Linked DNA regions of Homo sapiens: region 2 is linked to region 1. Evidence: fine-mapped expression QTL. Tissue or cell type: whole blood. Region 1 holds a variant in brackets; the other region holds the start of a gene. All regions are shown on one strand. Distances are from middle to middle.

Region 1 (4,520 bases):
ACAGTGCCACAAGTGAAAAGACCCATGACTGCCTTTATAAGTAAGTTCTTCTTTTGGTTTCTCTGGCAGGAGGCAGATGGAGGAGGAGAGAAAGGCCAGAGGTCTGTTTTGGGGTTGTTGTCTCTGGTTGTCTAAGTCATGCCAAGACACCACCCCTTGGAGCCTGGTTCCTGACATCCGGCAGCATGGCATACTTGAAGGGCATGATGTGGGGATAACAACAGAGCCCTGGCTGAGTCCGGTGGCTCACGCCTGTAATCCCAGCACTTTGGGAGGCCGAGGCAGGCGGATCACCTGAGGTCAGGAGTTTGAGACCAGCCTGGTCCACGTGACAAAACCCTGTCTCTACTGAAAATACAAAAAAAGTTTGCCGGGCATGGTGGCACACACACACACACGCACGCACACACACACACACATGCCCCCATAAGCATCCCAGTATTTGGAAGCAATCAGTTGATTTTTTTTCTTTTTAGAATTCAGTTTGGTGTTATAGGGACACTGCTAGCCTCAGGCAGTGCCGCAAGAGCAGATCAAGGCTCTGATTAAAAAATTCCTCAGTTGCTCCCAGCTGGAGATGTCTGCTTACAAAGCCCTTACAAAGAAATGTTTTTCAATAGGCAACATTCTCTGGTCTGGCCCCACCAAGGAAGTACAGCAGGAAATCTCACAGGCATCCCGATTGCCATTGCCCTCCTGCTCCCAGACACACACTTGGCCCCAACTGGCCTCTGACATGCTCCATGGGGAGCAAAATGGACTTGCTCCATTTTATCCATTGCTCTGGGCTCCACGGTGTTAAGCATGATGGCTTGGAAACTCTATATACCCAGTAAATGAATGCTTGTTGAATAACTTAATGAACACACCCCATGTCAGCCTATCTCCTCAATGCACATCCGCCAGCCACCTCAGCTCAGGCACCTCGCTGATTTTCAAAACATGGGCTAAAAGCTACCATAGGGCATCTAATTATACCTTCTGGTGTAGAAGGTGTTCTCTCATAGGAGGCCTTAGCCAAGTTTGAGAACAAGGACTTTGTATGGAATGAGCTGCATAATGGACAGCACTGGCTGGACCAGCCATTGGGGGTGTCTCTGGCTGAAATTTAACAAAGTTTCCATAGACCTTTTACCAGATTTACTGAGAATGTTGATTTCCTCTATTAAAGCTTAAACGTCAATTCAGGGGAATTTCCCCATAAATGTTGTGAGACTAAACGTGGCTTCTTGTGGGTTCCACATGGGAGCTCACCAGGATGTTGCCCAGCCTTTGTAAAGGTCTGCCTGGTTTCCTGTACCTAGTGGTCAACGTCAGCAGCTGTACCTGTGCCCAGCATTGGGAGGCTCGTCCTCGGCCCTCACCCGGCCATAGGCAGTCAACATCACTAGTTCTCCCCTGCTTAGCACCCAGTGGCTGCCTTTTTGGCCTCTAAACTTGCTTCCCTGTGTTCTTGATCCCTGAAGCTCACCACTGGTCCACCTGCCAATTACTCACTTTAATCTTATCAGAGTAGATACCCAGGTTTTACATTTCACCCAACAGAACTTGAGTCCTAATTCTCATTTCCTTCCTTTCATCCATGAGCTTTACATGGGAATTTGCATTTACAGTTATGCCTGTGAATTCAGAGGCCTCCCCTGGACCAGGCGGTCATGTGCTGAGTGAGGCGGGTGACCAGCTTGGAAGCCAGGGCGGGAAGTTCGCATGGCCCTCTGGGTGAATCCTTTGCTTCCCTGCTTTGGAAGACAGCTGGCTGCAGAGCAAGAGTTCTCTTGTGTGAGGCCCATGGCAGTGTCGGACCCTAAATGGCCATTGGAACACACC[C/T]CCAGGTTTCTAGCTGCACTGGGTAGGGGTGGGTGAAGGAGAACTGAGGGCGCGTCAGCCTCTCCTGCCTGGACAAAAAGGCATGTAGGTCACAGTTCTCCCCAGGTGTTCTCAAGTCTTGCTTGTTTGTTGTCAAGAGAAGGCAGAATTCTGCCTTGAAAAAAACCTCTGTGATGGCCATTTAAACAGCCTGTGGATTGTTTCCAGGCCTGAGCACTGCTGGAGGAGGATGCTGGCTTACAGAGGCCTCTCCAAAGCATCAGTCTTTGGACTCCCAGGAGCACTATTATTAGCCTCCCTTCACATTCAGAAGGCGCCCACCCACAAGAGTGGGTGGATATCAGGGTCTGGGCCCACATCTTCTGACTCCAAGTCTGTGTATCTTGCTACCATGCAGCTGATTTCCCAGTTGCTGAGTTTTCTCTGTGCACATCTTGATGGCTGATACCTGTAATAACAGAAACTTCGTTCAACTCTCATAAACCCTGAGTCTGGAGGTCTGGGACATATTAGGCCATACGAGGGGGCTTAGCTTGCTTTCTGTCTCTTTCTCTTCCACCTGGAACATAAGTTGTCCCCTAGGTGAAGGCCGTCTGCCACACTGACTGTGTAATCTGAACTTGGAGCCAGAGGTTCTGAGTCTTAGCGCCGCCCTTGCTATTATCTTCCAGCATGATTTTTGGGCTTGTGCTTTCACTCTACTGAGACTCAGATTCCACACCAATAATAGAGAGATTTGAACTAATGTATCCATTGAGATGGTTTGAATGCATGTTACAGAAAACCTAACTCAAGCAGGCATAGGCAAGAACTTGAAATAATTAGTTCATGCAATTCATTAAAAAGGGCAGGGGCTTGATCCAGGGGCTTGAACAATATTTCAGGAACTGGTCTGTTCCCCTCTTAGCATTGCTCTCTTCCTTCCATTTCGGCTTCATTTCAAGGCTCCACATGATGCCAAGAGGGCTGCTGGTTACTCCAGGTCTACTACCTCCCAGATGCTAGTGCAAGGAAAAAGAGGAAGATGGCCTCTAACAGTGGCAGCTAAAGGCTATGAAAAATCACTGACTCAGTTGTGTTAAGCGCCCACCCCTAGGCCAGGCCCCATGGCCAGAGAAATGTGGTACTCCGAATGGACAGGACTGTCACATGCCCACCCCACATATGGGTGGGGCCCATGAAACACACATGGGAAAAGGATGTGGGATGCGTGCTTTCCCCCCAAAAAAGCAGGGCATGGTTGCCCAAAGAATGGCAAATAGGTACTGGGTGTTAAGCTTCATTACTGATTTAATTTTATTGTTTGCCAGGTAGAATGTGAACATGCTTTCAAAAGTCAAAACAATATAGAAAAGCATGCTCAGGCTGGGCCCAGTGGCTCATGCCTGTAATCCCAGCACTTTGGGAGGCCGAGGCAGGCAGATCACCTGAGGTCAGGAGTTCGAGACTAGCCTGGCCAACATGGTGAAACCTCATCTCTACTAAAAGTACAAAAATTAGCTGGGTGTGGTGGCCAGTGCCTGTAATCCCGGCTACTCGGGAGGCTGAGGCAGGAGAATTGCTTGAACCTGGGAGGCAGAGGTTGCAGTGAGCCAAGATCTACCACTGCACTCCAGTCTGGGCAATAAAAGTGAAACTCTGTCGAAAGAAAGAAAGAAAGAGAGAGAGAGAGAGAGAGAGAGAGGAAGGAAGGAAGGAAGGAAGGAAGGAAGGAAGGAAGGAAGGAAGGGAGGGAGGGAGGGAGGGAGGGAGGGAGGGAATTAAAAAGAAAAGCGTGCTTTTTCCATCCTATTCCCTCATACTCCTTAGAGGAAAACAACTACAAGATTTTTTGGATTTTTCTTCCCATGTTTCTTTTTGTAGAGAGAAGCTCAAGAAGCTTGTCTTTGTAGAGACAATATGGGTGGATCACGAGGTCAGGAGATCGAGACCATCCTAGCTAACACGGTGAAACCCTGTCTCTACTAAAAATACAAAAACAAAAAATTAGCTGGGCATGGTGGTGGGCGCCTGTAGTTCCAGCTACTCGGGAGGCTGAGGCAGGAGAATGGTGTGAACCCGGGAGGCGGAACTTGCATTGAGCCGAGATCGCGCCACTGCACTCCAGCCTGGGCGACAGAGCGAGACTCCGTCTCCCCCCCAAAAAAAAGAATACTCAAGTCTCATTATTTCCCTTCTTTCTTCACAAAAGATATCCCACTCTATATACTCTTTTGTACCTTGCCTTTTCACTTAACAGCGTCTCCTGGAAATCATTCCATATCATTTCACAGGGATCTTCCGCATACTTTTTATATCTGCTTAGTACCTCATTGCATGTGTGTACCATATTTTATTCAAGTACTCTATACTTAGGCATTTAGGTAGCTTCCAATATTTTGCAATTATAAAAAATTGCTGCAATGAATAACCTTGGGCATTTGTATTTTTACGTAGTGGAAGGGATATATTTGGGGCAAATTTACAGAAGTGGAATTGCTGAGTGGAAGGGTACATGCATACGTGGTTTTGTTAGATGTTGCTGAGTTCATCTCCACAGGGGTTGTGCCGTATCACAGTCCCACCTGCAATGTACCAGAGAGCCTTTTTCCTTAGCCTCACCAACAGTGCGTATTGTTAAGCTTTTGAACTTTTTTTTTTTTTTTTGCCAATTCAATGAGTTAAAAATGTGCATTTAATTTACATTTTACTAT
Region 2 (4,262 bases), 22 kb after region 1:
AAAAAATTAGTCGGGCGTGGTGGCGGGCTCCTGTAGTCCCAGCTACTCGGGAGGCTGAGGCAGGAGAATGGCGTGAACCCGGGAGGCGGAGCTTGCAGTAAGCTCAGATCACGGCCACTGCACTCCAGCCTGGGAGACAGATCGAGACTCCGTCTCAAAAAAAAAAAAAAAAAAAAAAAAAGAGGGTCTCGAAAATGTTAGTACTGTTTTATTTCTCAAGAATAAATTGTATACAGATGTGTTCAATTCCATATTTTCTATACTTATTTTGTATGCTTAACATTTTCACAATTAAAAAATTAATTTGGTGAGGCTGCTGGAGAAAAGGTACTCACACAAGCTGGCGGGACTGTCAATTGATATAACTACTTCCAAGAGCAGATTAGAACTGGTGGTATAGTGATGCCACTCTTTTTAACCTCTTGGATGGACAAAGATAGAAAGGTTGGATAACAGTTTGTGTTGGCAAACAGGCACTCTCTTTGCAGATGGGAATATAGATTGAAGACACCTCCTTGCAGGTAATTTTTTGGCAATATTTGACAAAATTGGAAACTCCCCTTCACCTAGCACAATTTCCTTGAGGTATTTATTCTAAGAAAATAAGCAATTTTAGAGCAAAGATTTATCTACACTGAAGTTTCCCATAGCAATCACAGTATTGTTTCTAATATTAGTAATACAAAAAGAAACAACCTGTATGTCTAACACTAATCGATTCTAATTTATGGTGCAACTGAACAATGGACCAAAATGATGCTGTTGGAAGTTTTTAATGATGTGGAACCGCTTGCAAATTATTAAGCTAAAAGAAAGTAGGTTACAAGATAGCAGGAAGAATAAACCATTAAAAATACCAATCTGTGCACTGACAAATGTTATAAATATTTTACGTTATGTTATGTTATAAACATTTTATAATATAAAAAAATGTTAACTGAAGTTACTTCCTGGATGAATTACAGGTGATTTCATTGTCTTCTAGAATTTTCTTTTCCAAAAATGTTGTGTATGCGTGTAATTATTATTTTAATAGGAGACACTCTCCTTTGGTGATATAATTTAAACAGGACGGTACTGACTGATAACCTCCCGGGGAAGGCAGGGAGCCAAGTACTACAGACTTGTATGTTTCCATGGAAATCTAACGCGCCTTTGATTATCACAGATTCTGGAGAAGAGTGAGGACTTGGGTTCACCAGTGCGTTCCCAAGGACAGGCTGGGCTTCTGAGGAAGTTGCCCACCCTCTCGGAATCTGGTTTGGCCTCCGTAAAATGGGCAGATCCCGCTCGGATGGCCCGGTTCCCGGCTTCCTTTTGCGGGTCAACGGCAGCGTCACGCGCGCGAGCGCGGTCTGCAAAGCCCCCAGCGCTGGGCGTCACGCGGGGATTGCTGTCGCCGCTGCCAGCCGCAGCAGCGACGCGAACTCGGGGCGCCCGGCCCGGGCGCGCGGGGGCGGGGACGCGCACGCGGCGAGGGCGGCGGGTGCGACGGGGGCGGGGACGGGGGCGGGGACGGGGGCGAAGGGGGCGGGGACGGGGGCGCCCCGGCCTAAGCGGGACTAGGAGGGCGCGCCACCCGCTTCCGCTGCCCGCCGGGGAATCCCCCGGGCTGGCGCGCAGGGAAGTTCCCGAACGCGCGGGCATAAAAGGGCAGCCGGCGCCCGCGCGCCACAGCTCTGCAGCTCGTGGCAGCGGCGCAGCGCTCCAGCCATGTCGCGCGGCCTCCAGCTTCTGCTCCTGAGCTGCGGTAGGGCTCGCGAGCGCCTGTCTCGCCTGTCGCCCCCCGCCCCTCCACGACACCCCCTCCCGTCGGTCGCTTGCTCACGACGCGCTCTCTCTTTCTTGTAGCCTACAGCCTGGCTCCCGCGACGCCGGAGGTGAAGGTGGCTTGCTCCGAAGATGTGGACTTGCCCTGCACCGCCCCCTGGGATCCGCAGGTTCCCTACACGGTCTCCTGGGTCAAGGTAGGTGCTGCGATACCCACGGGCTGGGGTTTGGTGGGCTCATTTGAAGACAGCAGGAACCATCTCCCCTAGGCTGGCGACCCTCTGTGGCTGCCAGGTGGGGGCGAGGGGCGTCTCCCGCAGCTGAACTTGGAGTACCCAGCCTCCCGTCGCGCCTCCCCCACCCCATCCGCATCCAGGTACAGGGCCGAATTAGGTTTTGCTCTCCGCAGACCTCAATCCCCTTCCTGTCACTGAAGGTGGCCTGAGATGAATGATCCACTTAAGATGTTTTGGAAGGGCAGAGACTCTCATTTGGATTAATTCTGGAGGCCACCTGTGGTTGTGGGCCAGCAGGTCAGGAAGAAAGCAACAGGGACCTAGATTTGGGCATTGGACAGGGGGAATGTCTCCAGACTTCTGATTTCTTGTGTTTTGTGACTGTGATGCCCATGATACATGGGAGGGGGAGGGGGCAATTTGAAAGGAAAGGCTAAGACACAGAAGTGACTTAGGCCATTTCATCCATGGTAGTTATCAGTGGTCATCTCCTTTGTGGGATACCCTTGGCTTCCTCCCCTAGCCCTCCTCCTCCTTCCTCTGGCAGCCTTGAGAGCATCAGGTGGATGCATGAGCCGGAGCCCGCATGTGTAAGAACAGGCCTTGCTGCTCCTACTGTAAGTGGACTGAGTGACAAGGAGGCTTTTTCAAGGTTTCCTCTTGACTGAAACATTCTCAGATTCTAAGATGGCAATGATGGTGTCATTCCAAAGCCAAGCAGCTACTGTTTGATATCACTGGTCCTTCTTTAAGTCAGGCCACTGCTACCACAGCACCTCCATTTTAACCCAAATGAATATGATATTACAACCTTACTCTGTAGCTCTCACTGATTTGCTGTCTTACCACGGGGGCAAATCTCTGCACTTGTAGCTTTCCCCAAAATGCAGGGCGTTCTTCTGCCCACCATAAAAGATACTATAAGAAACTGTACGTCTTTGGCCACTTAACAGTACAAGGCATCATTGCGGTGATCTCTTTGTGTGTGTGTCTCCTAACTGGATGGTCAGTTCCCTGGGGGGCAGTGGCTGTATCCATACTTCTGTGTATTCTTCACGGCACCTAATTTTTGCCCTATAAATTGCAAAGGTGCTCTGTGAATTCAGCCCAGCACTTCATGAGTTATGCATGACGGGGATGGTGCTGCTGCCTCAGAGCATTGTATTGTGTATAAAAGTAAGGTGTTAAATATTCCTACTTCATTGGTACCTTACTTACTGTGGGATCAGAGAACACAACAATTCCGAAATTGTTCTCATAGTCAAAACAATAGTATTTTTAAAAATATTGTAAAAACAATTTTTGAATGCTCACCACGTGCCAAGCTCCAAGGTAAATATTTACATACATTATCCATTTCCATCCATCGGAAGAATGGACTTAGGGATTAGTACTGTTACTATTCCTACTTTACAGGTGAGGAAACTGAGCCTTAGGGAGGGAAATAACTTGTCCACTTTTGCACAGCTAGCTAAATGGTGGAGTTGGGATTTGAACGAAGCAGTCTGATTCCAAATCCTGAGTTGTTAGAGGTCTATCTTGATCTCTGTTTTCTCCCTTAATAACTTAAGATAAAGAAAATCAAAGTGCCCCTGGGCTAACCAGGCAGGGACTTAGTTATCTCAAAGAACGGGGAAAAACATGAAACCACTATCCCTTCCAGAGAGTAACTATTTAATAAAGAAAACATTATTAATACCCCCAGGGGAGTAATTAAAAAGTACTCATGAAACAAGTAGATGAAATTTCAGGCTGTGAAGTTCAAACAGTTCTGGAGTGAAAGCTTCTTGCACAGGGTCATTTGGAATGGTCCACTAAACCATAGCAATTAACCTTGGACTTCTCCTTGGATGTCAGCTGGTGACGTAACTCGGTAACGCATGAGCTTGTTTATTGGACAGAATTCTTGCGAGATTTACCCCCAAGGTCTTTGAAAGCTCTGTCAAGAAAAAAAGGGACAGCAGTCTCTAGGCGTTCTTTTTTTCCTGTTGATCCATGGAATAGTGCCAATGAAAAGTCATACCGTAGTTATTTTTTGAGAAGTAAATGGTGATTGAGATTCGTGGGTAGGAGAGTTATGCTATACCAATAAACGAATCAGGTGCCTCGAAAGTGACATATATTGTTCCTTTAAGCATTTTTTTTAAAACAGCTCTCAGCATGTTCTGTAGATACTTATTATTTTCCAGCCCAATAATTATACTTTTTCATTGATTATGCTTATACAACAAAAATGGATAGAGTGTTCTGGAGACA

The links. PIP is the estimated chance that this variant, and not a neighbour inherited with it, causes the effect.
Region 2: CD83 starts here. The variant in region 1 is the best candidate, but not a certain one, in a credible set for the expression of CD83 in whole blood (INTERVAL, PIP 0.89).

Annotation. Positions count from the first base shown.
Region 1 is chr6:14,094,335-14,098,854 of GRCh38, forward strand. It overlaps LOC105374939 (a long non-coding RNA gene), which reads left to right and starts at 4,300. Exons shown (of 3, transcript XR_926500.3): 1 at 4,300-4,433. RefSeq lists enhancers at 1-130, 1,024-1,153 and a cis regulatory region at 1,002-1,502. The variant C/T (reference allele first, on the strand shown) is at 1,828.
Region 2 is chr6:14,116,099-14,120,360 of GRCh38, forward strand. It overlaps CD83 (CD83 molecule), which reads left to right and starts at 1,674. Exons shown (of 5, transcript NM_004233.4): 1 at 1,674-1,750; 2 at 1,852-1,967. The coding sequence starts at 1,714. RefSeq lists silencers at 1,000-1,294, 1,422-1,541 and cis regulatory regions at 1,037-1,945, 1,285-2,101, 1,285-1,940, 2,106-2,606, 2,177-3,003 and 1 more.